Linked DNA regions of Homo sapiens. The protein of the gene in region 1 purifies or fractionates together with the protein of each later gene. This does not show direct contact. Each region holds a gene or a part of one and is shown on either strand. Other genes may lie near its edges. The genes, in order: ESD, HMGCL, HEATR3 and GUK1.

What was found.
Region 2: the proteins of ESD (region 1) and HMGCL fractionate together in Homo sapiens (co-fractionation; one large-scale study listed by BioGRID). This does not show direct contact.
Region 3: the proteins of ESD (region 1) and HEATR3 purify together in Homo sapiens (affinity purification with mass spectrometry; one large-scale study listed by BioGRID and IntAct). This does not show direct contact.
Region 4: the proteins of ESD (region 1) and GUK1 fractionate together in Homo sapiens (co-fractionation; one large-scale study listed by BioGRID). This does not show direct contact.

Annotation. Positions count from the first base shown.
Region 1 is NC_000013.11:46,788,022-46,796,309, reverse strand, and holds part of ESD (S-formylglutathione hydrolase), read left to right. Parts: intron 1-2,865; 5' UTR 2,866-2,913; intron 2,914-4,889; 5' UTR 4,890-4,896; coding exon 4,897-4,964; intron 4,965-8,288.
Region 2 is NC_000001.11:23,814,547-23,820,009, reverse strand, and holds part of HMGCL (hydroxymethylglutaryl-CoA lyase, mitochondrial isoform 1 precursor), read left to right. Parts: intron 1-2,426; coding exon 2,427-2,534; intron 2,535-3,239; coding exon 3,240-3,335; intron 3,336-5,463. UniProt on the Homo sapiens protein: Mitochondrial 3-hydroxy-3-methylglutaryl-CoA lyase that catalyzes a cation-dependent cleavage of (S)-3-hydroxy-3-methylglutaryl-CoA into acetyl-CoA and acetoacetate, a key step in ketogenesis. Terminal step in leucine catabolism.
Region 3 is NC_000016.10:50,092,182-50,100,469, reverse strand, and holds part of HEATR3 (HEAT repeat-containing protein 3), read right to left. Parts: intron 5,766-8,288; coding exon 5,677-5,765; intron 241-5,676; coding exon 97-240; intron 1-96. UniProt on the Homo sapiens protein: Plays a role in ribosome biogenesis and in nuclear import of the 60S ribosomal protein L5/large ribosomal subunit protein uL18 (RPL5). Required for proper erythrocyte maturation.
Region 4 is NC_000001.11:228,141,581-228,149,455, forward strand, and holds the end of GUK1 (guanylate kinase), read left to right. Parts: exon of another isoform or gene 1-53; coding exon of another isoform or gene 54-249; intron 250-3,115; exon of another isoform or gene 3,116-3,172; intron 3,173-3,930; coding exon 3,931-4,044; intron 4,045-4,445; coding exon 4,446-4,487; intron 4,488-5,261; coding exon 5,262-5,358; intron 5,359-5,825; coding exon 5,826-5,964; intron 5,965-6,034; coding exon 6,035-6,119; intron 6,120-6,790; coding exon 6,791-6,876; intron 6,877-7,084; coding exon 7,085-7,117; coding exon of another isoform or gene 7,118-7,272; 3' UTR 7,273-7,371; downstream 7,372-7,875. UniProt on the Homo sapiens protein: Catalyzes the phosphorylation of GMP to GDP. Essential enzyme for recycling GMP and indirectly, cyclic GMP (cGMP). Involved in the cGMP metabolism in photoreceptors. It may also have a role in the survival and growth progression of some tumors.

The DNA.
Region 1 (8,288 bases):
ATAGATTAGCTTGCCCAGTGTCATGTAGTAATAAGTGGTGAAGTCAGGGTTTGAACCCGGAGGGTCTGGCCCCAAAACCTGCTCTGAAACCATTGTACCGTGGCATTGAGTAAAGCCACCCGATAGCAACATCCAGGCCATCCTAGAATTATGCATAGTTGAGTTTAACTAACAAAATAGGGAGTGAGACCAGAAAAATAATCTGGGACCAAATTATAGACCATATTTAGAGCCATGTGAAGGTGTTTGGCGTTTATAGATGCTATATTTTTTTTAAAAAATTTTCCCCAGAGTTTAATAGAAATCCTTACCTAGGCAAGCCATGTGAATTTTTATGAAGGAAAAGAGACCCAGCCTAGGCAGCATGGCAAAACCTCCTCTACAAAAAATTACCTGGGCATGGTGGTGCCACCTGTGGTCCCAACTACTCCAGAGGCTGAGGCGGGAGGATCACCTGAGCCCGGGGGCCGAGATGATTGCAGTGAGCCGAGATCAGGCCACTGCACTCCAATCTGGGCCACAGAGTTTGACCCTGTCTCAAAAAAAAAAAAAAGAAGAAAAAAAAGACTGTGTTTGCACACAGGTAGAGTGTGACTGAAGTTTATATGGAGTTTTATTCATCTATTTTTTCAGTGATCCTGCATGGTTTTAATTTTATGAAATTTTAATGGCATTAAACTTGAAGAAAATTGTACAATTAACATGGTCTTCCATTTCAGTGACTTTCTGGTTCTCAGCGACTGGCCTAACAGCGAAAGGGATTAGTAGTCTCCACCTGCAGCAGCCAGGGGGTGATGAGGCAGTTCTCATCTGCTCATTATTGTGAGCTGGCGAACTGCGTTTTTACATATGACTAATGGATACTTAACACTACTGAAATACACACTTAGGAATGGTTAAGATAGTAAATATTATGTATGTGTTTTTATCACAGTTTTTAAAATACTAAATAAAAATGACTAACAATTCCACGTAGGCCGTATTAGGCTGCAGATGAGCTGTTGGTAGGGATCCGTTGACCAGTAAATTAAGTGGATTAAAACCCTAGGCTTTCATGCAGGATTGATCGTAGTGGGATGTATTAGGAAGAAAGGAAGAGGCTAAGTTTTAATTTCTTATATATAATTAGGATGATGGCAGTGGGAATTCAAAAAGAAGGTAACTTTGAGGCATCTCAAATGTAGATTAGGCAAGACAGGCATGAGTCTGAAAAAGAGAGGCAATGAAAAGAGGAATGGTTTGAAGGTGAGATGCAGAAGCTTAATTTTAGGTGTGGTAAGTTTTAATAGCTGGTGACATGTCTTGGTAGAAGAGTCCAGCAAGAAATGTCATTATGGGTACTAATGCTTGAGAAAGATTGGTTATAGAGATGCAGATTTAGATTATTTCACCCAGAAAATGTAGTTGAAATTTAGGGAATGAGGTTTAGGGAAAGAGTGTGAAGAAAAAAGAAAAGGGAGGTGGGAGGAGACAGAGTGAAAGGGAAGAAGCCAGATCCTGAGTTTTCACTGAGAAGAGGATTTGAACAACACAGTGGTGGTCAACAGCAGTTATTGGAACTGTAGATTGTTGGTTTTGGGAACACCTGTCTAGGTTGTTAAGAGCCAGTGGAATAGGACATCCTGGAAATGAAGAAACATCAAAATCCAAGGAATCTGAGAGAATGGGAACAAAAAAACACATGTAGAGATTTATGGAAAACTTGAGACACAGGGGAAGAAGGATAAAAATAGAACTCAGATTTCTGGAGGTGGATGACATTTAACTTTAATAAGTAAAGGGCCCTGTCTCTACAAAAAATTAAAAAAAAAAATATTCCAGTGTGGTACGCACCTGTAGTCCTAGCTGCTCAGGAGGCTGAGGTAGGAGAACACTTGAAGCTTGGAGTTCTAGGTTACACTGAGTCATGATTATGCAACTGTACTACAACCTGGGCCACACAGCCAAGACCCCATCTCCAAAAAATAAAAAATAAAGGGAAGAACAGTAAGGTTTGACCTTTAGGGGAATGGATGTATTATGCACTGAGAGACCCTTTCTTCTCCAAAGAATGTTGATGTTCACTAACATTTGGGAAAAATTGTGTAACTCCCACTGGCACTGTGAAATTGTTTTTCTGTTTTTGTTGTTGTTGTTGTTGTTGTTGTTTTTTGGAGGGGAAGGAGGAAGGGTGTTGTTTGGTTTTTTGGTATTCCACCCTACTCTGTCACCCTATTTCTCCCACAAAATCTGTTCTAGAACCTAAATATATATTTGTTCTAGAGCCTAAATGAAATCTACCAGATAAGTGACATGATATATACTATGTAAGTTTCCATATATATTTTTCTTACTGAATATCAGTCACTTCATCGTTCATAAGCCCACTTTTCTTATACATCCTTTCTAGTCACCCTAGTAGTAGTCCTTCAGTCCTCATCTCTTCCCTTCTTTCTCCCCATGTTACAAGTTCGACTTACAACTGAGCCAGATAGATCCATCTTCCTCTACTTACCTAGTCCCCACTCTTATTTTCTTCACTCAGGAGTTGACTACATCTCATGCTTCGAAATTACACTTGAAAACTTTGTTTATTGATTTAAAAAGATAAAAAACTTTCATAGTACTTTTACTTCAGCAGATGGTTTTGACCAAGTACCAACAAGCTTTATGGCAAAATAGGTATTAAGGTGGCCTGTGGCAAATAATTAGATTATGGGCAATTAAGGTAATTAAGTGGTGATGTGGTATCCCATCAGGGTGTACAGTCATTTACCTCAAAAGAAGAAAACATCTCTATTGAGAATGCATATGCATATAAAAGCTCTGTATAACCTTTGCTGTGAAAAGTATATCCCATTTGTAAACCATTGGTGTTTTTTTCAGAATCGCCTACCATTTGGTGCAAGCAAAAAGCAATCAGCAATTGGACAGGTAAACTTGTTTTATTGTTTATATGTTACTCTGAACATTGAATGAAAATACCACTAATAGCTTGTTTTAAAACGTGCTATTTTTCACATAGAAAAATTCTATTGAAAAATATAACCACCTATTATAATGTATCAGATATCATAGTATATCACAGTATGTCATATCTAGTTCTTAGTTTATGTCATATTTCTTGTTAAGCCTAACATATTTTTTTGATTTGTAATTAAAGATAGTTTCTAAAATGGTGGGTAGAAAAAATACTTTAAAAGCTTTGTTTTTTAAAAAATATTCTACCAACTTTTAAAAAGTGTTTTAATCTTGTTTCTTCTGGCCAAATGAAAAGCATTTGATTTTGAATTTTAAGAGCAGAGAAAACTGACAACTTGAGGTTTATTAAAATAGACGAATAGCAAAGATACAGACTCCTATGTACCAGATACGTGCTCAGTGTACCATCTTTTGCAAAGTGGATATAGTCCTTTCTAAGTTTAAGAAAATCTGGTTTCCTTGTGGAATAATGGAGCAAATAAATTTTATTTGTTGGTCTCATATATATGTATTAATATATTAAAATTAGTATCTCTCTCTATAAGTTCATTATTTAAGATAGGATTGTTAACAGTAGCTAAAGTTAATATTCAGTAACTAATAACATCTCATGGGAGTTTATTGTTTAAGAATTAATCTTTTATAGATTAAAAGCATAAAACTGAGCAGATGGTAATTTCTTTGTGTACAGTTGTAATATCATAATTCTATAGAATCAGTTATCTTAAAGTGTCTTAAAAAATGAGTATTTAAAGAACCTCTAGAGAGTCAGGACAGCATAGCAGTTAAGAGTAGGGCTTCTGATGTCAGACTTCTGGGTTCAAATCCCAGTCTTCCAAAATAAAACTATTTGGGTTTATTGAAGAAATTAGAGATAAGATTGAAACTAATTTTTTAAAGTATTTTATAAAGACATTTCCAAAATTAGCTTTTTAAGATTATTGTTATACATCTTTGAAAGAGTAATCCTAAAGCTCCAGCTGATTAGCATGTAGTAGTGCATTTCTCTGAGAAGATCACCAGGGTGGTAATACCTGTTCCTGATATCTAAAGCTTTTTCTTCAATATGTAGGACTTACTGCCTTATATTCTAATACAGTGTTTCTAGGAATAGAAAGGGAATCTTTCTTTGAGAGGTACATGTCAGAATCAGTGTGGTTTCCCTTTGCTTAATAGGCATTTATGATAAAGATAGTTTTCCAACTTTTTTCCTGTATTTATCATTAAAAGCAATAAAATATGTCATTTTACATGTAAGTTTAAAATTATTTTTACATGAAAACAAAAGATTTGTTGGACAGAAAAGAAGTTAACAGGCTTGTTTTACTTATTGGTTTGTTTTAAAAGGAGAAATAAATGTTGATCTTAAAGTTTCATATCACTTTCTCTTAAAAATTCATGGGATGAGTAATTGGATCTGGTTTAGTGTCTAGAAAAATGTGTATCACACCGTAAGTGTTCAGTAATGTTACATATTATTATTACCAAAATCATTATCACATCTTTCTTCCATTTTAAAATCAACTATAATCAGTCATACCAATTCCTTGACTACTTTGTTGCAGTTGATAGGCAGACTATTAACAATTTTTAATCTTCTAAACTAAGGTAATTAATTGGTAACTTATGTATTTTCTGCCTCTTTTAAAAATAATTTGGGGCAGTCCACCACAACGAAAAAACTTGTTAATAAATTAGTAATGATATACCAAAGTATGAAAGCTTTTAAAAGTGAGTAACAAGTGTAAATGCATGTATGAGCGTTAATCAGTTTCTTAATATTATTTACTGGAGAAAAATGTGAAAAAAAAATTCTAAGTAGAAAATAGTTGTATGTTCAGATAATTTATCTGAAGGCAATTAGTTTTGTTTCAAGTTTTTCAGTAACTAATTCTCTGGAAATTAATGAGATTACTCTTTACTAATAGGAAAAGAATGGCATTGAAGCAGATTTCCAGCAACAAGTGCTTTGGGGGATTGCAGAAAGTTTTTGAACATGACAGGTAACTATTAAGAAGATATAATTTTAGATACCTCATTCTGTTGGATTATTTTGTTCTATTTTAAAACCAATCTTTATCTAGATATTATAGTACCTCATTTTACTTTTAAACTTGCTTACTCTCTTTCTGTGGTTATGTATTTGACAATTCTACCAGACTTAATTAACTGTGGATGTGATTGTGTGAGGTAGAGCCTTAACAGAGAAGTATCTTCAAGCTTTGACATGATGCTCTTCTGAAACTTTATGAAAATGCTTATGTTGCCAGTAAAAATTCTGAAAACATTTTCTTTGAGGATCTCTAAGTGTAGGAAAAACACCTGGACTTTTTGAGAAAGATGGCACACTAAACACATGCATTTGCTTCCGCTGCCTCCAAAACTCTGACTAACATGGCATTAAGTAAAGAGATTAAACACACACGCACACATACATATACCTATAAAGGCATAAAGAAGCAGGAGACAGGAGCTAAGAATAACATTTTAGAAGCAGGAATACAAATGGAGAGGTAGTACCTGACTTAGTAAAACCTAGAAAGCTACATTCTAAACATAAGCAAGAAAACCTGAGAAATGACACAATTTATTTAAAGCCATAGTAATTGGAGGCACCAGGGACCCCTGAAAATAAGGATAAAAGTTGAGCTTAGAAAAAAGATTAATTGAAAGTCTGTTTTTAAAAGGAGATAGATCTGAGAGTGTCCCAGCTTTATGGACTGCCTCTTCCTAACTCTGGGAAAGATTGGAGGTAAGTTCTCTAGAGAAAGTAAACTGTTTGTACTGGGGAATACCAGACACAATTAGTGGGATTGTGATACTGCAAATAGATTAAGCAAAAGTTTGCACACTGAGTTTCTTCCACTAGCTTTCAAAATTTGGGGACTTAGTCTTATATCCTTTAGAAGAATTTCTTTGTGGGGAGTTTGAGTAGCCCAAAGGAAGAGATTTCAAGATACTGAGATTTGCCAACAAAGTAACCTAACCAGACCTTACAGTAAAGCAATGATTGACAACTCCACCTGTAGGCACAGTGCTTTCAACTAGATTTTTAGTGTTTCTCTCTTAAATAGGAGTGGACAGCTAAAGATCACTAGACATTTGTATAAAGTCTTTAATTTGATATGAACTTCTCTTCATATCAAAGTATAAAAGATATTGACCTCTTGACTTCATAGGATGCTATTAAAAAATATTCAAGTACATGGCCAGGTGTGGTGACTTACACCTGTAATACTAACACTTTGGGAGGCCAAGGCAGGCAGATCACCTGAGGTCAGGAGTTCGAGACCAACCTGGCCAACATGGTGAAACCCTGTCTCTACTGAAAAAAAAAAAATATATATATATATATATGTACAAAAATTAGCCAGGCATGGTTATGCACACCTGTAGTCCCAGCTACTTAGGAGGCTGAGGCAGGAGAATTGCTTGAACCTGGGAGGCAGAGGTTGCAGTGAGCTAAGATGGCACCACTGCACTCCAGCCTGGGCGACAAGAGCGAAACTCTGTCTCAAAAAACATAAAATAAAAAAATCCTCAACTACAAAAAAGCCTAGACATTTAAATTTTGGTAGTAGAAATGACAAAACTCAATAGAATGGTTAGTTGAACATTCTAGAAAGTAAAATAAGATAAAAGTGATAAATCAGAAAGGACAACAAAATTAGAGGACTAGTCCAAAAATCCAACATTAAAAGTTAGGAATTTTGGAAAATAGAACAGAAATAGAGGTATAGATATAAATAATAAATAATTCAAGAATTCCCAGAACTGAAGTTGCCAGATTTAAAAAGTTGTCTAGTACAATGGATGAAAATAGATCTACACCAACAACATAGTAAAGTTTTAGAGTGTTGGGAACAAAGAAAATTCTCAAACATTGAGAAAAAGAGAAAGTAGATTAAGAATTTTTCAAAGGTTTAGGTCAGCTCAACGGTATTACTAGAACTAAGAAGGCAGAGCAGCAGTGCTTTCAGGATTCTGAAGGATAACTTCTATGTCCAACCATATTGTCAATTAAGTGAGAGTAGAATGAAGATGTTTTCATATATGAAAGGTCTCAAAGTGTATTTCCCATGCACTTTTGGAAGCAACTGAATAATATGCTTCACCAAAATGAGGGACTAAAGCAAGATAGCTGAAGGCATAAGATCCAAGAAAACAGATCAGAGGAGAAAGAGTTTCCAGATGAGTGGAGCTATATTAAGGCAGCAACTAGAAAGCAGCAGGTCAAAAGTTGGAGATGGTAGCCAGTAATTACATGTAGCCATTTACATCAAATTAGCTAATTAATAAAACTTCAGTCCCACTAGCCACATTTCAGGTGCTCAGTAGTCACATGACCAGAAGCTGTTGTACTGGACAATACATAGATAGAACATTTTTATTAATATCACTGTAGAAAGTTCTGTTCGGCAGTACTGGTCTGAAGGGGTTTTTTTAATGTAGATGAAATTGATAGAACTGACTGTATTAGAGAGGAAATTTATGAAACCAATCAGGGTTGGGGGAGTTTGGTATTGAATTAGTGATACATGCAGAGTGACCACACAAATATCTGTGCATGAGATTGTATTCTTTTGGTAATTGAGCAACATCTTAATGACATGATAGGGACAGAGGTTTCAGAAGATTGCTTGATAATCCTGTTGTGTTTTTTTTTTTTTTTTTTGCTTTTACATAAGTGTTAATCATACCACTGTTGAACATACTTTAGACCTGATTTATTCCACAACTGCTTGAGAAAGGTCCTCTTTTAAAAATTTTGTTGTAATAACAAAACAACATGAAATATACCCTCTTAACAAATGTTTAAGTGTGCAAGAAAGGTCTTAAGGCACCAACCATTCTGTAACAAGATTATGTTCTCTTGATTTTACGTATTGATAACAGATATCCCTGCATTGAATATGGATTTGATATAGTATTATAATGAAAGTAAATGTTTCAGCTTCCCTAACAAAAGTTGAAAACCTAAAAACAAATGTCAGAAATTTTTTGTGCCGTCAGTCATCAACAAGAAAAGTTGCTTAGAATAATGTGGAAAAAGAAAATCACCAATATGCAGAGAATGGAAAGGAGCATACAGAAAACTTCCCATGATGGGGCCTTTGTGGGAGTCTATTCCTAACAAGGAAGGATAACCAGTAACAAAAAGGAGAGAATTACCAGCTCAATGAAAACAAAAAAAACTGAAAGAAAAAGGAAAGTAATGCTAATATACTACATGGCTTATCTCTGAATAGCATTTATAACTTCTTAATATTGATTAACCAAAATTATATGTGATACGATAGTGGAAGGAGAAATGTAGGGGCATGCAG
Region 2 (5,463 bases), on another chromosome or scaffold:
CAGTTGGAAACAACTTAAATATTTAGTATGAGGAAAGTTGGGTCAGATACACTATGGACTTTTTATAAAATGAAATATTATGAAGCCATTAATAACATAGGTATATATAAAGTGACTCAAGCAGTTTATAAAATAGTACATGTGACTGGGCATGGTGGTGGCTCATGCCTGTAATCCCAGCACTTCAGGAGGCTGAGGCAGAGCACGATTCTGTCTCCAAACAAAAACAAATAGTGCATGTGCGCGTACGCACGCGCGCGTGTGTGTGTGTGTGTTTTTGGGAGATGGCATCTCACTCTGTCACCCAGGCTGGAGTGCAATGGCGCAATCTCGGCTCACCTCAACCTCCTCCTCCCGGGTTCAAGTGATTCTCCTGCCTCAGCCTCCCGAATAGCTAGGATTACAGGCCCCTGCCACCATGCCCAGCTAATTTTTGTATTTTTAGTAGAGATGGGGTTTCACCAGGTTGGCCGGGCTGGTCTTGAACTCCCGACCTCAGGTGATCCACCTGCCTCAGCCTCCCAAAGTGCTGGGATTACAGGCATGAGCCAATGCGCCTGGCCATGTATTTTTTAATCTTAACACTTTTATGTAAGAAAAAAGTTTATATATGTATGGGAGCATTTATCTAGACTAGGACCTAGACCAGCACTTTCTGTGAAGATGGAAATATTCTGGACCTGAGCTTTTCCATGTGGTGGCCACTATACCCATGTGGCCCTTGAGAACTTGAGATGTGACTAGTGTGGCCAAGGAATTGTATTTTTATTTTTATACAATTTTTATTAAATTTAAATAACCACATGTGACTAGTGACATATTGGGCTGCACAGATCTAGAAAGTTACACACCAGGGTGTTAATAGCGTTATCACTGGGAGATTCTAAGGGTGGTTTTCTTTTGTTTTTGGCATGTTTTTCTGAAAGAATCATATATTGATTATTTTTTCAATAAGAAAAGCTTTTTTCTTTTTCTCTTTTTTTTTTTTTTTTTTTTTTTTTTTAGCACGTCCATCCTAGCTTTAATAGTGAGTGCTTGTTGGAAACAATAGTGTGTAAGTTCCCGAAGGGCAGAATCCTGTCTGTTCTGCTTCTGCTTACTGCTATATCCCCGGCACCTAGCACAATGCCTGCAACATGGAGGGCTTTCAAAAATTATTTGACAGGCTGGGCATGATGGCTCATGCCTGTAATACTGGCACTTTGGGAGGCTGAGGCAGGCAGATCACCTGAGGTCAGGAGTTTGAGACCAGCCTGGCCAACATGGTGAAACCCCATCTCTACTAAAATAAATGAGCTGGGGTGGTGGCATGCTTGTGTAATCCCATCTACTCTGGAGGCTGAGGCAGGAGAATCGCTTGAACCCGGAAGGCGGAGGTCGCAGTGAGCTGAGATTGTGCCACTGCACTCCACTCTGGGCAATACAGTGAGACTCCATCTCAAAAAAAAAAAAATTTTGTGGAAAGATTAAGTTAGAGCAGTGGGAGAGAAACTGGAGAAGGCAGGCAAGGGGAGGACCTAGCGAGAAGGACCTGGAGTATTTTTGTGTGTTCTTTTTGTTTGAGACAGGGTCTTGCTCTGTGTCACTCAGTGCAGTGGCACAATCATTGCTCACTGCAGCCTCGACTTCCCAGGCTCCAGTGATCCACCTCAGCCTCCTGAGTAGCTGGATCACAGACACGTGCCACCACGCCTGGCTAATTTTTGTATTTTTTGTAGAGAGGGGGTTTCGCCATGTTGCCCAGGCTGGTCTCAAACTCCTAAGCTTAAATGATCTGCCTGTCTCAGCCTCCCAAAGTGCTGGGATTACAGGCGTGAGCCAATGTGTCCGCCTGGACCTGGAGTTCTTAGAATTTTTTGCGTAATCCTGTAAATATTAGGGAGCCATAGAAAGCTTTTGATGCAAGAGAATGGAAGGTTGGAAGCTGCATTTTAGGAGGATTCCTGTGTAAGATGAATTAGTGGCTTGAGACTATGCCATGTTATATACAGGATAATGATGGTAGATTTGGAAAGAGGAATCCATGGAATCTGTTGAGCTACTGGACATGGTGGGGAGGAAGATAAAGAAGCTATACGCTGAACACATGAGGCTGAAGTCCTATGCCAATTGGGAGACAGAAGCGAGGAGGGTGTGATACTTTGGGGGCCCCATCCCATACTCCCCAGAGGGTTAGTCATCTCTGCCCTTTCAGGCCATCACACATTGCTCTCAGTTTGTTTATGATGGGATTATAAATTAACACACATTTACTTACGGGAAAGCCTGCATGGCAGAATAATGTTTCTATGTAAATAACTCCTTTTCAGGTGAGAAGCTGCATCCACTGCAAAAAATTATCTATAGTACTTGAACTAACAGGTACTGCATTTTGAGGCTGTTTTGTTACTAACTTTGCTGCCTTGGTGTTTCTCTCTCCACTATAGAATATCGTATCTACTCCAGTGAAAATCAAGCTGATAGACATGCTTTCTGAAGCAGGACTCTCTGTTATAGAAACCACCAGCTTTGTGTCTCCTAAGTGGGTTCCCCAGGTGAGCCCTAGCCCTCAATGAAAGGCCTTTCTCTAGGGATGAAAAGTTTTGCATTTGCCTTTGAAGCAAGTAGAAGTTGAGAACATAGGTTTCCAAGCCCCTGGCTTTGAGAGGTCTCAGGTGATTCATAGCACTGTGTTGCAGCAAAAGAACATGACCCAGGATTCAGGGCCTTGGGTTCAGTCTTGGCTCTGCTCTGACTTGCTCAGTGACATTGCTAAGGCCTTCCCCTCCTCAGTGTTAGAGATGACCTCTTCTAGCCCTAAAGTCTAAAACCCTCTATGCCTGTCTGTGGTTTCTTTGTTTGTAAAAGAGGAAGACTGACAACTCCTGCTTCACAAAGATAGTTAAGTGAAGAAGAAACATCCTGTTACAAAGGAGTGCTTAACACAGAGCTGAGCTCAGTGCCTGGCCCAGAGTACATTCTCAATAAATGGCTGGTAGTAGTATTCCTGCTGTTTCTGCATATGTAAAGCTGGCAGTATGGGCCATATGGAGAAATTGGGATCTCAGCCAAACCAAGGGCCCTTCTGAGCCATCAGCAGTCAAACAAACAGTAAAAGTATTGGAGAGACTCAGCTCTGCAGAAGGAATTACTCGCTAAGAGTTCTGGAGAACAGAGGTTTTGTGATGAAAAGGTTTTCTCTAACTGAACTCTCTGTCTGCTCTTGGTGATGACTTGGCAATGTCTCCCTTGGTTCCTAGATGGGTGACCACACTGAAGTCTTGAAGGGCATTCAGAAGTTTCCTGGCATCAACTACCCAGTCCTGACCCCAAATTTGAAAGGCTTCGAGGCAGCGGTAAGAGGATAGCTTGTTGGTGGGGGCTCCTGAAATGAGATTGATGGCATTGGTCCCTGCCTTGTCTTGGCGCCTCAGTCCCCTGTCCTGGGATGTCCATCTGAATAGCTTGTCTGTCAGCCAGACCCTGGGGCAAACCTGGCCCTGCCACTCACTGCTCTGTGATCTTGACAAGTTGACAAGCCTATAAAATAGGGCTAAATGATAGTACCTGAAGTTGTGAGCATTTCAGAAGATAGGATGCATGTACATTGCTTAGCAAGAGCCAGATAAAAGGTAACTGCTTAATAAATGTTAGCTCTTTTGATTATCCACTTCTTTAGAGAAATGTAACCAAACTCTCCACAAGAGTTTCAACAGTAGTTGCTGGCATCTGCCAACTTTCTTACAATTTTAGACAAGAACATCTTTGGAGGCGTTGGTTCTGTATTTAGGCAAAAACCTTTTTTTGGCTGGGCACAGTGGCTCACACCTATAATCCCAGCACTTTGGGAGGCTGAGGCCGGAGAACAGCTTGAGGCCAGAAGCTTGAGACCAGCCTGAGCAACATAAGGAGACCTTGTCTCTACAAAAAAAAAAAAAAAAATCAATTAGCTGGCTGTGATGGCATGCACCTGTAGTCCTAGCTACTCGGGAGACTGAGGCACAGGATGGCTTGAGACTAGGAGTTCGAGGCTGCAGTGAGCCATGATAATACCGCTGCACTCTTCCAGCCTGGGTGACACAGCAAGAAAAAAAAAAAAGCTTTTTCTCAAGAGTGACTTCCAGGGTGGTGATGGCAGTGGTGGTGGTTTCCTTGGGGAAAATCAAAGTTTTTTTTTTTTTAATTAAGAGAAATTACTGTGTTTGTTTCCTAGTGCTACTGTAAGAAAGCACTACAGGCCGGGCGCGGTGGCTCACGCCTGTAATCCTAGCACTTTGGGAGACCAGGGCGGGCGGATCATGAGGTCAGGAGATCGAGACCATCCTGGCTAACACGATGAAACCCCGTCTCTACTAAAAATACAAAAAATTAGCCAGGCTTGGTGGCAGGTACCTGTAATCCTAGCTACTCAGGAGGCTGAGGCAGGAGAATCACTTGAACCCGGAAGGCGGAGGTTGCAGTGAGCCAAGATCATGCCACTGCATTCCAGCCTGGGTGACAGAGCAAGACTTTGTCTCAAAAAAAGAAAAAAGAAAAAAAAAAAGAAAGCACTACAAATTGGGTGGCTTAAAAACAACAGAAATTTATTCTCTCACAGTCTGGAGGCCAGAAGTCCCAAATCAAGGTGTCAGCAGGATTGGTTCCTTCTGAGGCCTCTGGGAGAATCTGTCCTATGCCTCTCTGCTGGGGTCTGGTGGTGGCCAGCAGTCCTTGGCATTGCCTGGCTTGTAGATGCATCTCTCCAGTCTTTGCCTCCGTTTTCCCAGGGCCACCTTTTCTGTGTCTCTGTGTCTTCACTTGGCCATCTTTTGTTTTTGTTTTTTTTAGACAGAGTCTTGCTCTGTCGCCCAGGCTGGAGTACAGTGGCATGATCTCGGCTCACTGCAAGCTCCACCTCCCAGGTTCAAGTGATTCTCCCACCTCAGCCTCCCGAGTAGCTGGGACTACAGGCGTGTGCCACCACGACCGGCTAATTTTTTGTATTTTTAGTAGAGATGGGGTTTCACTGTGTTAGCCAGGATGGTCTCGATCTCCTGACCTCATGATCTGCCCGCCTCGGCCTCCCAAAGTGCTGTGATTACAAGCGTGAGCCACTGCGCCCGGCTGGCCATCTTTTTTTAAGGTCACCAGTCGTATGGGATTAGGGGCCCACCCTATTCCAGTATGGCTTCATCTTAACTAATGATATCTGCAATGACGCTGTTTCCAAATAAGGTCACATTCTGAGGTGCTGGGTTTTAATCCTTCAACATATATTTTTAGGAGGACACAATTCAACCCATAACATTCACATAACATAAAATTTACCTTAAGAGAAATTTTTTGCTACTCTGTGTCAGTGTTCTTTAAAGAGAAAAGTGCTGGCCGGGCATGATGGCTGACACCTGTAATCTCAGCACTTTGGGAGGCTGAGGTGGGTGGATCACAAGGTCAGGAGTTCGAAACCAGCCTGACCAACATGGTGAAACGCTGTCTCTACTAAAA
Region 3 (8,288 bases), on another chromosome or scaffold:
CTTCAAGTCCACACAAGTTTTAAGAAATCCTACACCAACAGTTCTTCTCCCATTTCTAATTATTTAACATGTTAGGTCAGAAGCAAATTGTTTTACCTTAAGAGTTTCAAGTGTACCATCTTCTTTGGCAAGGACGCTGCCAGTGATTCCTAAAATGCTAACGACATTCACTCTAACCCCGACATTACTACTATGAATGCCTGCTTTGCATAATGTCATCAGCTGATCAGGAGTCATGCACTGTTAAAAGAGAAGAGGACAGTATTTATAATGTTAAACTCAATTAATTCTATCAGCATGTGAAAACCGGACTGACAGGAATCTCCTCTATAGGCTACAGGATTTTAAGAGTGACATAAACTCCTGGCAGGTAAGTTACTATTAATATGTATTCCAGTTCTCCCAGACAGAGCTGGTAATTCTGAACTAAGGTGAACCCTGCTCATGTCGGCACTGTTATCTAATATCAAAGGGGCTCCATTTAATTTGATGAAGACTTTCATTCCAGATGTACACACACTAAAGAGAGTCCAATTCCTTTTTAATATTAATGGTAAGAAAAAGGCTTTGAAAGTATAAATAGGATTGTGTGGTTTTAAAAAAATTGGCTGAGTCTATACAAGGTAAGAACTTACTTTGAGATATCTGTATTATCATAATTAAAGACTGTAGAAACCATTACATTATATGGTGCTTCTACCATGTAGTGGATAATTTTCAGTTTAAGGCTGGGCGCGGTGGCTCACGCCTGCAATCTCAGCTACTCAGGAGGCTGAGGCACAAGAAACGCTTGAACCTGGGAGACAGAGGTTGCAGTGAGCTGAGATTGTGCCACTGAACTCTAGCCTGGGCAACAGAGTGAGACTATCTCCTATAAGCAGCAGCACAGTGTAGTGATGAAAGGCTTGGAATCTGGAGCCAGACACAAAGGCTTGGAATCTGGAGATTGAACCCTGGGTTCAAATCCTAGCTTCACTACTTATCACTCGTGTGAGCCCCTACACTAGACTAATGTATTTTTATTTTTTGTAGACATGAAGTCTCACAAAGTTGCCCAGGCTGTTCTTGAACTCTTGGGCTCAAGCAATCCTCCCGCCTCAGGCTCCCAAAGTGTTAGGATTATTAGTATGAGCCACTGCACCTGGCCCTGAACATGGGCTTTGAGTAATTTTCCTTAACCATCACACTGATCCCATAAGCTGCTGCTTACATACCAGGGGAAATCAATAAAAATACTTGATATTCCTATAGGCCCTAGAGTATAAGGTTTTCTGGTCCATCCAACAGCCACATGGCAGGCTATGCATCCCATTACCATTCCTACTTCTTAGAAACTGAGGGTCAAATTATGCTCTTCAAAAAAATTCTTAGCTTTGGAAAGCTGAGGCAAGAGGATCACTCGAGAGCAGGAGTTTAAGACCAGGCTGGGCAACATAGCAAGACCTCATCTCTATTAAAAAACTAAAAAATAAAAATAAAGTATAAAAAAATTTTAAAAGCATTAAGAAAAAAATTATATAAAGAAGCAAAAAGAAATAGTGTTATTGGCAATAACAAGAGCATTGTTATTTTGATACTATTAAGTACATTCCGTAGGATAAAGCAAATAATAGTTTTAATGTCACTACAATTTTAATGTTACTACAGCAAACAATTTTAATATCACTGTATAGCAAATAATTTTAATGTCTTTTAATGTCACTACTACAAAGTACATTCTGTAGGAGAAAGCAAATAATAAAATTTTTGAAAAATATTTTTCTTTCTTTTCTCTAATTTTAATTTTTAAATTATTTATTATTATTATTATTTTTGAAACGGAGTATCGCTCTGTCGCCCAGGCTGGATTACAGTGGCCCGATCTTGGCTCACTGCAAGCTCCGCCTCCTGGGTTCACACCATTCTTCTGCCTCAGTCTCCTGAGTAGCCAGAACTACAGGCACCCGCCACCACACCCGGCTAATTTTTTGTATTTTTTAATAGAGACGGGGTTTCACTGTGTTAGCCAGGATGGTCTTGATCTCCTGACCTTGTGATCCGCCCACCTCGGCCTCCAAAACTGCTGGGATTACAGGCGTGAGCCACCGTGCCCGACCTATTTATTATTATTTTTAAAGCCAGTCAAACTTAGCGTGGGGGGTTGTATACCAACTTCAGTGACACTAATGTTAATAAGTCCTGATAACCCACTACCATCAGACCAGCTGCAAATAAGAATTTTAATGTCACTAATGTATCTTTTTGGGTACAATGTACCTTTTTGGGTACAAATGTATCTTTTTGGGGGATACAAAAAGATAGAAATACAAAATCGAAAATTAAGTAAAAATATTGTACCATTTTTTATTTAAACTGGAAATTATCAGGATAAACTTACTATTTTTGTCTCCTAAAAAAATGCCTATTTCCTAGCTATTTCCACTAAAAAGACCTAGAAACAATGGCAACATGATAGCAATAAGCACTCCACAATTCACTTTCCCCACTAAAGAAATCAGAGCTTCTTGGAGAAGTAACTAATTCCAGGGTTTTTTTTTTTTTTTTTTGAGACGGAGTTTCACTCTTGTCACACTCTTGTCACCCAGGCTGGAGTGCAGTGCAATCTTGGCTCACTGCAACCTCCACCTCCTGGCTTCAAGCGATTCTCCTGCCTCAGCCTCCCAAGTAGCTGGGATTACAGGCGCGTGCCACCACACCCAGCTAATTTTTGAATTTTCAGTAGAGACGGAGTTTCGCCATGTGGGTCAGGCTGGTCTCAAACTCCTGACCTCAAGTGATCCGCCCACCTCAGCCTCCTAAAGTGTTGGGATTACAGGCATGAGCCACTGTGCCTGGCCAGATTCCAGGTTTTAAGCAAGAAAATTACAAATTGAACCTGGGACATCCTATGCCTGGAAGCAAAAGTGATCAAAAACCTAAAATTCTTGTAAAAGAGGCACAGGAGCCAATTTGAAGGGACTCCTACTATCCAAAGATGGGATGAATTTGGCAGCAAAAAGCATGACTATAATGGAATGAAATACAAATATATAAAAAACCCTGAGTTCAAAATGATACTAAAAAAAAAAAAATCACTGGTCACTTATAGAGATTGCTAGGATAGCTATTCTGAAAAAAAAAAAAATCATAGCTAATAAATGTAAAAAAAAAAAAAAGAAAAGACAAAATTAGGGTATCTCTATTCTGCAACCCACTAATGACATAATGGAGCCAGGCAACCACAATCACTGGTTATAAAACCATTATGTGAACCCACTAATTAATCTCAGCATCACTATTTTATAATATCATATGATTTGTGATATAAATATAGGAAATATATAAAGCACTATAAATTATTCTTGCCAAAAAATCTGGACCTGTCTAGATTATTTATTATAAATACAAAAAATAAATAAATAAATAATCTGGACCTGGATCTAATTAAGGCTCTAGACCTAGCTCCCGGCTCACAGGAAACATGGGGGACAGAGGAATGCTGAACGATGCCATCATGATGAGTTGGCCAAATCTGCCAGTGCAGAAAATGCTACGGAACAAAATGAGAGTTTCTTCAATGGGTAAGTGTATGGGGAAAGGAGGGGAGTGAGGGAAATGCTATAGACTAAGAGATTTAAGAATATGAGAATATACTAAAACCACTGAATTGTACACTTTAGTTACTTATTTTTGAGACAGAGTCTCCCTCTGTCGCCCAGGCTGGAGTGCAGTGGTGCAATCTCAGCTCACTGCAACCTCCACCTCCCAGTTCAAGCAATTCTCCCTGCCTCAGCCTTCCAAGTAGCTGGGATTACAGGTGCCTGCCACCATGCCCGGCTGATTTTTGTATTTTTTGTAGAGATAGGGTTTCGCCACGTTGGCCAGGCTGATCTTGAACTCCAGACCTTACGTGGTCCACTGGCCTTGGCCTCCCAAAGTGCTGGGATTACAGGCGTGAGCCACTGCAGCTGGCCTGAACTGTATACTTTAAATGGATAAACTGCATGGTATGTGAATCAAATCTCAGTAAAATTTTTTTTAGAGATAATAAGAGACCAAAATATCAACCAAAAGCAACACATGAACCTTGCTTAGATCCTGATTTGAACAAGCCAACTGTTAAAAGACGTTTTTTTCTTTTTCTGTTTTTTTTTTTTTTTTTTTTTGAGACGGAGTCTTGCTCTATCGCCTAGGCTGGAGTGCAGTGGCATGATCTTGGCTCACTGCAACTTCCGCCTCCCAGGTTCAAGTGATTCTCCTGCCACAGCCTCCCAAGTAGCTGGGATTATAGGAGTGCGCCACCATGCCCAGCTAACTTTTGTATTTTTAGTAGAGACGGGGTTTCACCATGTTGGCCAGGCTGGTCTTGACTTCCTGACCTCAGGTGATCTGCCCGCCTCAGCCTCCCAAAGTGCTGGGATTACAGGTGTGAGCCACCGTGCCTGGCCATGTTAAAATACATTTTTAAGGCAATCTGGGAAAACTGAACTTAGACTGCAGCTGGGAAAACTGAACTCAGAGTGCAAACCAAAGGATAATAAGAAATATCCGTTAATTTGGAGCCTTGGGGTAATGGTACTGGGGTTAAGATTTTTAAAAATTTATTTTTCTGTCAGACATGCATACTGAACTACATAATAAAATATTGATGGGTCTAATATGATTTGCTTTAAAATACTCCAGGAAACAAAAATAAGGACCCAGTGAGATGAATGAAACCATGTCACAAGAATGACAGGACGCTAATAACCTGCTGAGGCTTGGCGACGGTGCATGCAGGCTCATAGGGTTATCTCTGCTTTGGACATGGTAGCGCACACCTGTAATCCCAGCTACTTGGGAGGCTGAGGTGGGAGGATTGAATCCAGGAGACTAGCCTGGGCAACACAGTAAGACCCCGTCTCAAAAAACAAAGCAACATTATTATCTCTGCTTTTAGGAATGTTTAAAAGTCTCCTTAGTAAAAAGTAGCAAAAGTGGTAAGGCACCTATGGGAGATGAAGTGCACATGGATTGCTGTGAAGGGTCAGGAGGGCATGCTTGCAAAGTCTGTAATGAAATGTTAAAAAAAAAAAAAAAAAAAAAGCTGGGTACGGTGGTTCACGCCTGTCATCCCAGCACTTTAGGAGGCCAAGGTGGGTGGATCACTTGAGGTCAGGCATTTAAGACCAGCCTGGCCACACGGCAAAACCCCGTCTCTACTAAAAATACAAAAATTTTGTGGTGACGCATGCCTGTAATCCCATTTACTTGGGTGGCTGAGGCACGAGAATCACTTGAACCCAGGAGGCAGAGGTTGCAGTGAGCTGAGATCATGCCACTGCACTCCAGCCTGGGCGACAGAGGAAGACTCTGTCTCAAAAAAAAAAAAGATTTAAAAAAAAGACCAATGATAGAGAAATTATTTACAACATATCTATCAATTAAGTTGTATTGATTAAAAAGCACTTGTTTTGCTAGTAAGCCTATATATTAAAAAATTTAAAAAATTAAATTAAAAGCACCTGTGTGTTGCTGATGGTAGGGAGCAGAAAGATATTACTTTTTATTTTAATCACTTTTGTTTTATTTTTTACAAAGATCACATATTATTCTTGTAACAGAAATATGTATTTTTTAAAATAGTGAAGTAATGAATTTTGCCTCCATAATACACAATCTTTACAAGTTTCATACAAAAAATTTTAAAACTCTTACCTGGGAAATGTTCTTGGAGGCCATTGTTTGCAAAAGGGCCCTCAAAGCACTACTTATGGCTTCTAGAAAGTCAACATGTTTAGCAAAATCTAAAACACAAAAATGAAATATAAAATTTGCATTTCTCCAAGATAGGCTATTTTGTAGAAGCAACAAACAAAACAAAGCATGCTAAATGTTAATAAATGCTATTCTTAATAAAACAAACAAACAAAAAAAAACCCTCGATATTTAAGCCAAAATATTTAGTTAACAGCCCCCTGTACACTCTATACCTAAGTCTGAAAGATGATCGTGGTTAAAATAATCACAGCAAGGAGGTGTTCTACAGACAGTCCTTGACTTCCAGACACTGGGTTTTCATTTGACTCACACTTCAGCACATAATAAACCTAAGCTAGCTTTTGCAGACTGAATTCTGTCATTCATAGATCTCCATCAGGGTGCTGGGTAGAACTACCTTTGGTGGAGTCAGAATGCTTCCTTGCCAACCCAAGCCCACTGCTTAGCCACACACTGTTGCTTGTGCAGAGCCAGGACATGATGGCACCATCACTTTAACTGACCCAGCATCCCCTTCCCACTCCTACTCCTTATTCGCACACTTTTCTTATTGTCCCTTCTTCCCACACGGGACAAACAGAACACCAGCAGTAAGCCATTATGCTGGCACAGGCACGTGCAAGGGACAGTGAGGGTCACCCAGGGGAGTTGGCTCCTTAACCTCTTTGATGGGAAGAGATTTGCTTGGTGTGGTAGACTGTATTTTCTAAAAATGGCCATGGCAATATTTCAAGTCCTGTGTGATCTTCAAGAACCTTGCCACTTCCCATAAAGATGTGAAATCTACTTCTCCTTTCCTTAAATCAGGGTGGGACTTTGTGACTTCTTCAACCAACAGAATACAAAGTGACGGGCTAGGTCACAAAAGGCAGTATGACTTCCAGCCCTGACGCATGTGTGCATGCTCTTTTTTCTCTCGACTTCCGCCCTGGGAACCCAGCCATCCTGTTATGAGGAAGCCTGCGTCACATGAAGAGGTCACTGTGGGTGTTCTTCCTGACAACCCCTGCACCAACTGCCAGACACGTGAGTGAACAAGACTTCGGATGATTCCAGCCCATACTCTGCGAGTCTTCCAGCAGAGGCCCTAGACTAGTATTTCTCAGCCTCTGCACTACTGACATTTTGGACCAGATAATTCTTCATTTTATGTGTGCGCAGGGGTCTCCTGGGCACCGTAGGATGTGAAGGAACATTCCTGGCCTCAACCCTCTAGACACCAGTTGCAATTTCCAAGTTGTAAAACCAAAAATACCTCCAGACGTTGCCAAATGTCCCCAGGTGGGAGGTGGGAGGGGATAAGTGGCCATGGTTGAGAACCACTGGCCTAGACATTGTGGAATAGGAAAAAGCCATCTCCACTGTGCCCTGTCTAAATTCTTGACCAAAGGAAACTTCGAGAAATAATAAATGATTGTTGTTGTTGTTAAGTCACAGAGTTTTGGAATAACTTGTTACGTAGCAATAGATACACTCACTTCCTGCCCCACAGTTCCTGGGACTTATACCATTCCGATCCCCCACTTTTAGGTTACCCGGGTAGAAGAGAGGCAGCTTCTGTTCAAATTCTAATCCCGGCTGATTGTATTTTTTGGCTCTTTCATTTTCAGATATGTATTATGTACCAAAATAGGGGATTTCCCGTAATGATCACAGAATAATAGGAGAGCTTTACACACTCAGCCCTAGGATAGAGAGCTGCCTTTGACATAATTATGTGACTCCTCCTGCCTTCATTTTAGTCTTGGCTCAAATGTTACCTCCTCACAGAGGCCTTTCCACACTAACTGGCCTAGTGTAACGCCTCATATCATTCTGCTTTTACTTTTTTCTTCATAGCTAATATCACATAAAACATTTATTTATACTAGAATGCAAACTCCACGAACATATTGACCTGGCCTATCTTGTTCACGCCTGCATCCCTACCATCTAGAACAGTGTATGACATAAAGCATTCAATAAATACAAGCTAAAAGAATGACCTTGGGCCGGGCGCGGTGGCTCACGCCTGTAATCCCAGCACTTTGGGAGGCCAAGGTGGGCCGATCATGAGGTCAGGAGATCAAGACCATCCCTGGCTAACACGGTGAAACCCCGTCTCTACTAAAAATGCAAAAAAAAAAATTAGCCAGGCGTGGTGGCGGGCGCCTGTAGTCCCAGCTACTAAGGAGGCTGAGGCAGGAGAATGGCATGAACCCGGGAGGCGGAGCTTGCAGTGAGCCGAGATCGCGCCACTGCACTCCAGCCTGGGCGACAGAGCCAGACTCGTCTCAGGAAAAAAAAAAAAAAAAGAAAAAAGAAAAAAAAAAGAATGACCTGGAAGAGGTTCCTTAACCTCTCAGCTAAGGTTCCTAAATCTCAGCTTCCTCAGCAGGACAATGAAGTAACAAGGGCTGTCTCATAAAACGTGGTACCTAACAGGCACTCAAAAATCAGAGTGAAGTTGTTAATAGCCTGGACCTCCCGGGCTCAAGCAATCAGCTCCTGCCTCAGCCTCCCGAGTAGCTGGGACCACAGGCACGTGCCACCACGTCCAGCTAATTTTT
Region 4 (7,875 bases), on another chromosome or scaffold:
TCTCCTCGAACAGTGGGCCGGGGGCAAGGTGGTGACTCTGTTCAGTCCTTAGGATGGCTGGAAGCCAGAAGGAGGAGATTATGCCGCCACAGCAGGGAGTGCCTTTCCAGGAAAGCGGCTGCTGGGGCAGCATGGGAGCCCAGTCCAGGGAGCGTTCTGGCAGAGACCATTCCGGAACATGGATCTGCGCCGGCGGCTCCCAGGAGACCTTCCATCTCGGAGCTCCTGTGGAGACCACGTGCCTGGCAGGTCCTTACAGTTGTGGGTTGTGTGGCTTCTTGCCAGGCAGCTGATTGGAGTTTGCGACTGTGGGTTGGTGAGAGTGGAGAGCACAGAATGTTTGCTGGAATGCTTCCCTCTGCCCACAGGAAGACACCTTTGGCGCATGTGTTCTGGTCAGGGCAAAGGCTCCGTGGTTTCCACCGCAAGATTGCAGGAGCCTTGAGGCCTGGGCCACAGTTTTCTCCCTTGGGTGTGCTCCATGGAAGGTGGCTTTGGTGACCGCCCTGCCACTGGTCTCTCCCCAGGCAGGCAGGCAGCCTGTGCCTCCGCCCTGTCTCCAGCGGTGGTGGTGTGGCTGTGCTTCTGCAAGGCCCGCATCCACTCACTGTCTGCCCTCTGCACTCTCTGGCTGGCCAGGGCCCCCAGTAGTCTGCTCATTGTGCCCTCACGCTTGGGCAGAGCCGAACTCAGGGGACCCAGGAAGAGCGGAGTGTTGGCCCGTCCAGAGTTCTTGGCAATTGGTGTGTCATGTGTGCCTCGTGCCCTGTGCTGGGCGAGAGTGGGCACAGCTGCGCAGACAACGCCCTTGGCGAGGCTGGAGCCTGGACCCCTGCCTGGCAGCAGCTGGGTGAACTGGTGTCTTCTGCCTGCGGGCCCAGCCTCACCTCAATAGCTTACTGCTCCCTCAGGAGGGAGGAGGGGAGGCCTGGGAGCCTGGGCTTGGCGGGGTAAGGGTGGTGCAGGGGCAACACCTGTGGAGGAAACAGGCGGGGTTGGGGCCCACCAGCGTCTGCTGTCTGCTCTGTGCTGGGTTGCATCTGTTGGTGTCTGATCGTTGTCAGGGCCCTGTGGTGAAGAGACACACCTGCCACTTGCTGCTTGCGAGGAAAGGGGGAGATCCCCAACCCAGGAGCCAGAGGTGGGACTCCAGCACCCCCCATTCCTGGGAGTTGGAAGTGAGGCACGAGCTCCCCAATTCCTGGGCATCGGGGATGGGGTTTGGGGCCGAGGAGGGGATGGAGACCAGGGTCTTGTGGTAGTTTGGTGGGATCCTCAGAAGGTGTGGCTCTCCCCCTTCTGAGGACGCAAAAACTCCCAGAGTTTTTGGCGATTGATGTGCCACGTGTGCCTTGTGCCCTGTGCTGGGCGAGTGTAGGCACAGCTGTGCAGACGACGCCCTTGGCAAGGCTGGAGCCTGGACCCCTGCCTGGCAGCAGCTGGGCGAACTGGTGTCTTCTGCCTGTGGGCCCAGCTTCACTTCACTAGCTTAGCGCTCCCTCAGGAGGGAGGAGGGGAGGCCTGGTCAGTGGAGGTCACCACTGTGTTTCCTTCTGTGTGGGTTTATAGTCACGTAGCATCTAGGTTCAGACCCGAAGAGCTTGGAGCCAGGGGCTGGGGGGAACAGGGCAGGACCGGCCTTGGGGCAGCCCTGTCAGGCCCACCAGTGCCATGCTGGTTGTGGGTTGGCAGGGCAGAGTGACCTTAAGAAGGGCCAGCTCAGTGGAGCAACAGGACAGAAGCTCACATGGGGTCCAGCCCACAGGACCATTTGAGTAGCTCTCCCATATCGGGTCCTTCGAAGCACATGATTTAGCTTTACTTTTTCTCCTTCGTATTAGAAAAGTCACCATAATACCATCAAGTCATAATTTCTGTGATCTCAGTGCTTCAAGTAGGTGTGTAGCAATTGCTGGATGTGTCCTGAGAACTGTACCCCTTCCACCCTGGCGAGAAGCAGGGGCCAGAAATTCACACAAGTGGCATGGCTCATTGATTGTGGGAGACTCTGGGGGGCTCCTAGCTAGTGCATTATGGGAACCAGGCTGTGGAGGTTGCAGGGCTCGCTGGCTGGGAGAAGCTGAATGGATAAAGAACCCTGGCCACTGCAGTGCGTGCTGATGGTTGGCTGGCACGTAGAGGAGGTGGCAGGGCTGGGTGAGCAGCAGGAGCCAGGTTAGTGGGGAGGCCCGAGCTAAGCGCAGGGGCAAATTCTGCGGGTGGGAGAGCCAGGAGGGCATGGGGTGCATGGTGAGATGAAAACGATGTGTGCTTGTGACAAAAAGCCCAGAAGAGGCAGTAAGGAGGGAGGAGTCTATCCCTTATGGAGAGCACATGGACTTCTGGGTGGGTGTCCTGCAGTTCCCTTCCTCTTGAGTCTTTTTAACTGGGGGTCCGGTGTGTTTGTGATCAATGACATGTATGCGTGTGCATGTGTACCTTTGCAGGTACACATGTGTGGTGTGTGTGCATTTGCTTGGTGTGCGTGCATTTGTGTGTGTGTTTGTGTGTGCATGCATGTGTGTGTGTTTGTGGTAGGTTTGTGCACACATCCTGCATACCTTTGTGCCTGGGAGTGGCATGTGTGTGGTGGGTGTCGCTGTGCATGATGGAGTTGCAGCCGTGGTGCATTTGTGAGATTACCTCGGTGGCCTAAATTGGGGATTAGGAGGGCATCCTCAGGTCCTTCCCACTGTCTGCTCGTCTGCCCACAGGCGGCTGTGCCCTAAACAGGAGGAGGCCATTCACGCCTCGCCTGAGTTGTGTCCAAGGTGTGCGTGTGGCCAGGGGTCCATCCGCTTCCCTCTAGCCCAGCCCCTGAACACAGCTGCAGTGCACGGCCCCACTCCTCAGCTCTGCTCCCCATCCCAACTCGAAGACGCTGCCCTGGCCCTGTGTGTGCAGCTCATGTGGACTGGGAGGGCAGGGCAGGTGCAGGTCTTGGGGCAAGAGCTGGAGCTGTCTTTTCCTTCCTGCACAGCCGCAGAGCAGGTGGATGGGGCTGCTTCCCTGCAAGGGCCCAGGGCCAGGCCCCCTGGGGATTTATTCGTGGCTTAGAAGGGTGGGGCCAGAAGCAGGCGTAGTGGGGATTAGGGACTCAGCACCCCCAGCTCTCAGTCCAGCAGACAGACCCACCCCAGGCTGACTACAGAGGCTGCACCTCAGCAAACAGGTAGGCCCTGTTCTTGGGGAGGATTCCCACCAGGCAAAGGCCAGCTCCCGGGCCCTCACCTGCCACGTGTCCAAGCTAGGATCCTGTTTGCCTTTCCCTTGGGGGCTGGGAGGGAGGCCTCCAACCCCCTCTGGCATTACCAGCATCACAGATAGGAGTCCCAAGTCCTATGAGAAGTTCCTGGAATAGGTGTAGATTCAGTAGATCTTTACAAGACCATATCTGCAGGGCAAGGTACCAGAGGACAGAGGCGGGGACAGGGACACTTCCATTCCAGACCTAGCAGCCCAGCACTCAGCACCATGCATGGGAGCAAATGGCTGGACTCCTGGGTGGGGTGGGGGTCTCAGAGCAGGCTCCCAGAGGGCTTGGAGGTGACTCCACCAGGTGGGGACGGCAGCTCCCAGGTAGGGTGTCATCAGAGTAGACAGCATTGCTTGCTAGGGACCCCTGGGGAGGCTGACAGGGTCAGTGGGTTTCAGTTGGGGGGCTCCCCTGCTGAGAACCCAGTAAAGCCGGCCTTCCATTCGTCTCCCGTGTGCCCAGAGCCTGGTCTGAGGGCCGCCCTGTGCATGCCGGCCCTTCCAACGTGGCAGAGCTCAGGGGGAAGAACACCCAGGCTCTCAGGAGACTCTCAGGCCAATGTCTCCATCCCTGGGTCAGCCCTTTCCTGCCATGAATTCAGGAAGGCAGAGGCAGCTCAGCAGATGGGGACTAGAGGCCGCACTGCTATCCACAGCCTCTCTTCTCACCCCCAGGCATGTCGGGCCCCAGGCCTGTGGTGCTGAGCGGGCCTTCGGGAGCTGGGAAGAGCACCCTGCTGAAGAGGCTGCTCCAGGAGCACAGCGGCATCTTTGGCTTCAGCGTGTCCCGTGAGTCCAGGGCTCTCGTGGAGGGGTGCGTAGACCTCAAGGCTGCTGAGTAGTCCTAGCACCGTGAGCAGGCCAGGAGCCCAAACCCAACAGGCACACCCACCCTGCAGACTGTCCGAACTCTTGCACACTCCCCCCCACACAGAACCTGAGGTTATCACACTCCTGCTGTCCTGCGTGCCTGTGTCTCCCTTCCCTGGGTCTGTTGAGTACTGATAACTGGGCCACAGTGTTTCTTTCTGGGAGAACCCTCGCCTTGTAGGCTCCTGCGCCTTCCCAGTGGTGTGCTTCACTGGCTGCCTGCATCCTGGGGCTCAAGTGCTGTCGGGACTGCAAGGGAAACGCTGGGTGGGGCATTGGGCTCCGAGCAGCCCCCGATGGGTGACAGGTCTCTCTGCTAGATACCACGAGGAACCCGAGGCCCGGCGAGGAGAACGGCAAAGGTGAGTGGGGTGGGGCCCTATGGCTGGAGCACCCCCAGTGTGGGCAGGGCTGCTGGGCCCTGCAGCTGTGTTGGCTGTGCTGCCCGTCTCCTGCCCCCATCAATCCCTAATCTGTGAGATGGGTCCTTGCCTCCAAGGGCCGGTGAACTCAATCAGGGTGTCAGCGCCACAGCGTGGTGTCGCCTTCCTTGGGTACAGTGTGAGAGGCCGGCCAAGGCCTGGGGCTGTCTTCCTCCCACCTTGGAGGCGGCCACAGTGCTGCTGTCCCCAGCCCTGTCCTGGACTCGGCACTTATCAGCACTTTTGAGCTGTCTTCTGGAGTCCTGGTAAAAAGGGCTACTCTGCCTGCCTGATTCAAGACAAGGGACCCCCTTCCCAACAGCACCCCCGCCCCTTGCCGTGCAACCCAGTGGTCTCCAGTCACCCCACCACATCGTCCCCTCTGTAACCTGACGGTCTCCAGTTCCCCCACCACCTTCCCCCAGAACCTGTTGGTCTCCAGTCCCCACCCCATCACCACCAACTCCCAACTCCCCACTGGAACCCAGCAGTCTCGTATCTCCATCAGTGAGGACAGTGTGAGAAATGGTGTCTGGCTCAGGCACTTGGCAGCACTTGAGGGGTCCTCAGATGTCTCCTGCCCAGCAAGGATCTGACTAAAGCAGTCGTGGGTGTGGGAGGGGCCTGCAGGCATGCCTGGGTTGGGGGCAGCTGGCCCTGGGCACCCTGGTGCAGGTCCAGTCTGCCCTCTGGATGGCCCCTCCTCTTCCCCAGATTACTACTTTGTAACCAGGGAGGTGATGCAGCGTGACATAGCAGCCGGCGACTTCATCGAGCATGCCGAGTTCTCGGGGAACCTGTATGGCACGAGGTGGGCCATGCGTGGGTGTGGGTGGGCTCCCAGGGTTGCTGTTGGCAACAGGGATCCAGGTAGTGCCTGCTGCCTGCCCGCCATCCACACCACCCACCCCATGGTTATGAATGTGGCCAGGTTGTGGCCCAGGGCCAGGCTCCCACGTCTGTGGCCCACAGTGGCTCTTTTCATGAGGCTGCTGGGCCCGGTCCTGCCACCGTGCATTGTCCTGGCAGGGTGAAGGGTGCACAGGACACCTCATGCTCACTACAGGCACCTTGGGGAGTGGGTGGCCTCTGTTCCCTGTAGGCGGGGCAGGGCGTGGGGGTAGCAGGTTTGAGATGCTGTCGGGTGCTGGGTCCAGGCCAGGCCTAGGCTCAGCTGTGGGAGGAGAACGCTGGGCCCGGGAGGGCCTGGGTGTCCCTGAAGCTCCTGTAGGCCTCAGAGAGCCCTGGCACCCCTGCTGACCTGGCACCTCTCCCCAGCAAGGTGGCGGTGCAGGCCGTGCAGGCCATGAACCGCATCTGTGTGCTGGACGTGGACCTGCAGGGTGTGCGGAACATCAAGGCCACCGATCTGCGGCCCATCTACATCTCTGTGCAGCCGCCTTCACTGCACGTGCTGGTGTGTGCTGGGCAGGGTTGGGGGCTGGGGGCCAGGGCATGCCAGGCTCTGATTGCCACCCCCTTTTTAGGAGCAGCGGCTGCGGCAGCGCAACACTGAAACCGAGGAGAGCCTGGTGAAGCGGCTGGCTGCTGCCCAGGCCGACATGGAGAGCAGTGAGTGTGCCGTGGGATCACCAGGGAATGCCAGGAGGGGAGTCAGGGTTCTGAGGTCTGTGGCACCAGGGACCCTGTGGGTCCCCAGACCTCCTGACACCTGGAGTCCCTGTGAGGGTCCTCAGACCTCTCAACTACCTCCCAACACCTAGAGTCCCCGTGAGGGTCCCCAGAACCCACCCCCAGTCACCAAGGGTCTCATTGAGGGTCCTCAGATTTCCCTCTGTTACCCAGAGTCTCCGTGAGGGCCCCCAGACCCCCCATCGCCCAGGGTCCCATGAGATGTCCCCAACCTTCTAGCCCCGGGGGTGTCATGTGCATCCTCTTACAGCTGTTGCCTCTTCTCTGGGTCTGACTGCAGCCCACAAGAAGAGGGCATTTAATGTTCTGCTGTGTGTGTAGAGGATAGTGTAGCCCCTAACCAGAGTCCTGATGGGTGCTGGTGTCCAGACCCAAGTTCTGGGGCTCCAGAGAGAGCAGGAGTGGTGCCTGAGGACTGAGGCCCAGGGGGCGGCCCTTCCCTACCCTGCACAGGCCCGGCTGGGCTGGAAAGCTGTCCCACAGCCGCAGTGAGGACAGCCGCAGGCCAGTGGGCTGCTCTGGGGGTCGTGTGGGACCTGGGGTGGGGCTGCATGGGCTCACTGTGCCCTGACCCCAGGCCCCACCCACAGGCAAGGAGCCCGGCCTGTTTGATGTGGTCATCATTAACGACAGCCTGGACCAGGCCTACGCAGAGCTGAAGGAGGCGCTCTCTGAGGTGGGCCCATCCTTGTGCCTACCTGGGCAAGGCCCAAGGGGAGGCCTGGGGGCCAGGCCTTTGTTGTCCATGAGGCCACTGAGGTTAGATGGGACAGTCCTACCCAAGCACTGGCATGAGACACCGAGGTCCACGGTGGAGGGAGAGCAGGAAGCCCAGCCCTTCCTGGATACCAGCCCTCCCAACTCCCTTTCTTCCTCACTGGCAGGAAATCAAGAAAGCTCAAAGGACCGGCGCCTGAGGCTTGCTGTCTGTTCTCGGCACCCCGGGCCCATACAGGACCAGGGCAGCAGCATTGAGCCACCCCCTTGGCAGGCGATACGGCAGCTCTGTGCCCTTGGCCAGCATGTGGAGTGGAGGAGATGCTGCCCCTGTGGTTGGAACATCCTGGGGTGACCCCCGACCCAGCCTCGCTGGGCTGTCCCCTGTCCCTATCTCTCACTCTGGACCCAGGGCTGACATCCTAATAAAATAACTGTTGGATTAGAAACTCCATAAATGAGTGGAATGTGGCCCCAAGGTTGGTGGGGCCCCATCATCCCGATCGGGCCCTGAGCTCCGGCAGCCCACCCTAACCACCAGCCCCAAGGAGGGCCACAAGATGGCCTCTGCCTAGGCATCTGCTGCCTGCCGGCTCGTGGCTGCTGCCCCAGGGCAGCATGATGCTTGACTGGCAGGCAGGGAAGGTGGCAGGGCTGGTCCCAACCCACCTGGCAGGCTGGCAAGTGGGGAGCAGGAAGCGGCTGCATGGGGCAGCCTGAGGCTGCAGGGGTGGGCCCTGAGGGCTGCCTCTTGGTGCCCGACCCTGTGGGTCTGGCATGGGCCAGAGGTTCCAGGAGAGGCCCCTGAGCTCTGGCAGCTGGAGGTTCTAGATCTCGAGGTCTAAGGGGTTCCCTGAGGGAGATGCCCCTCCCCTAGCTGCCCCAGGGGCTGTGTGTGGTGTGTGAGGAGCCTCCTCTGCTCAGGCTGCCTCCCTCCTTCCCCAGTGCTCCCCCAGCT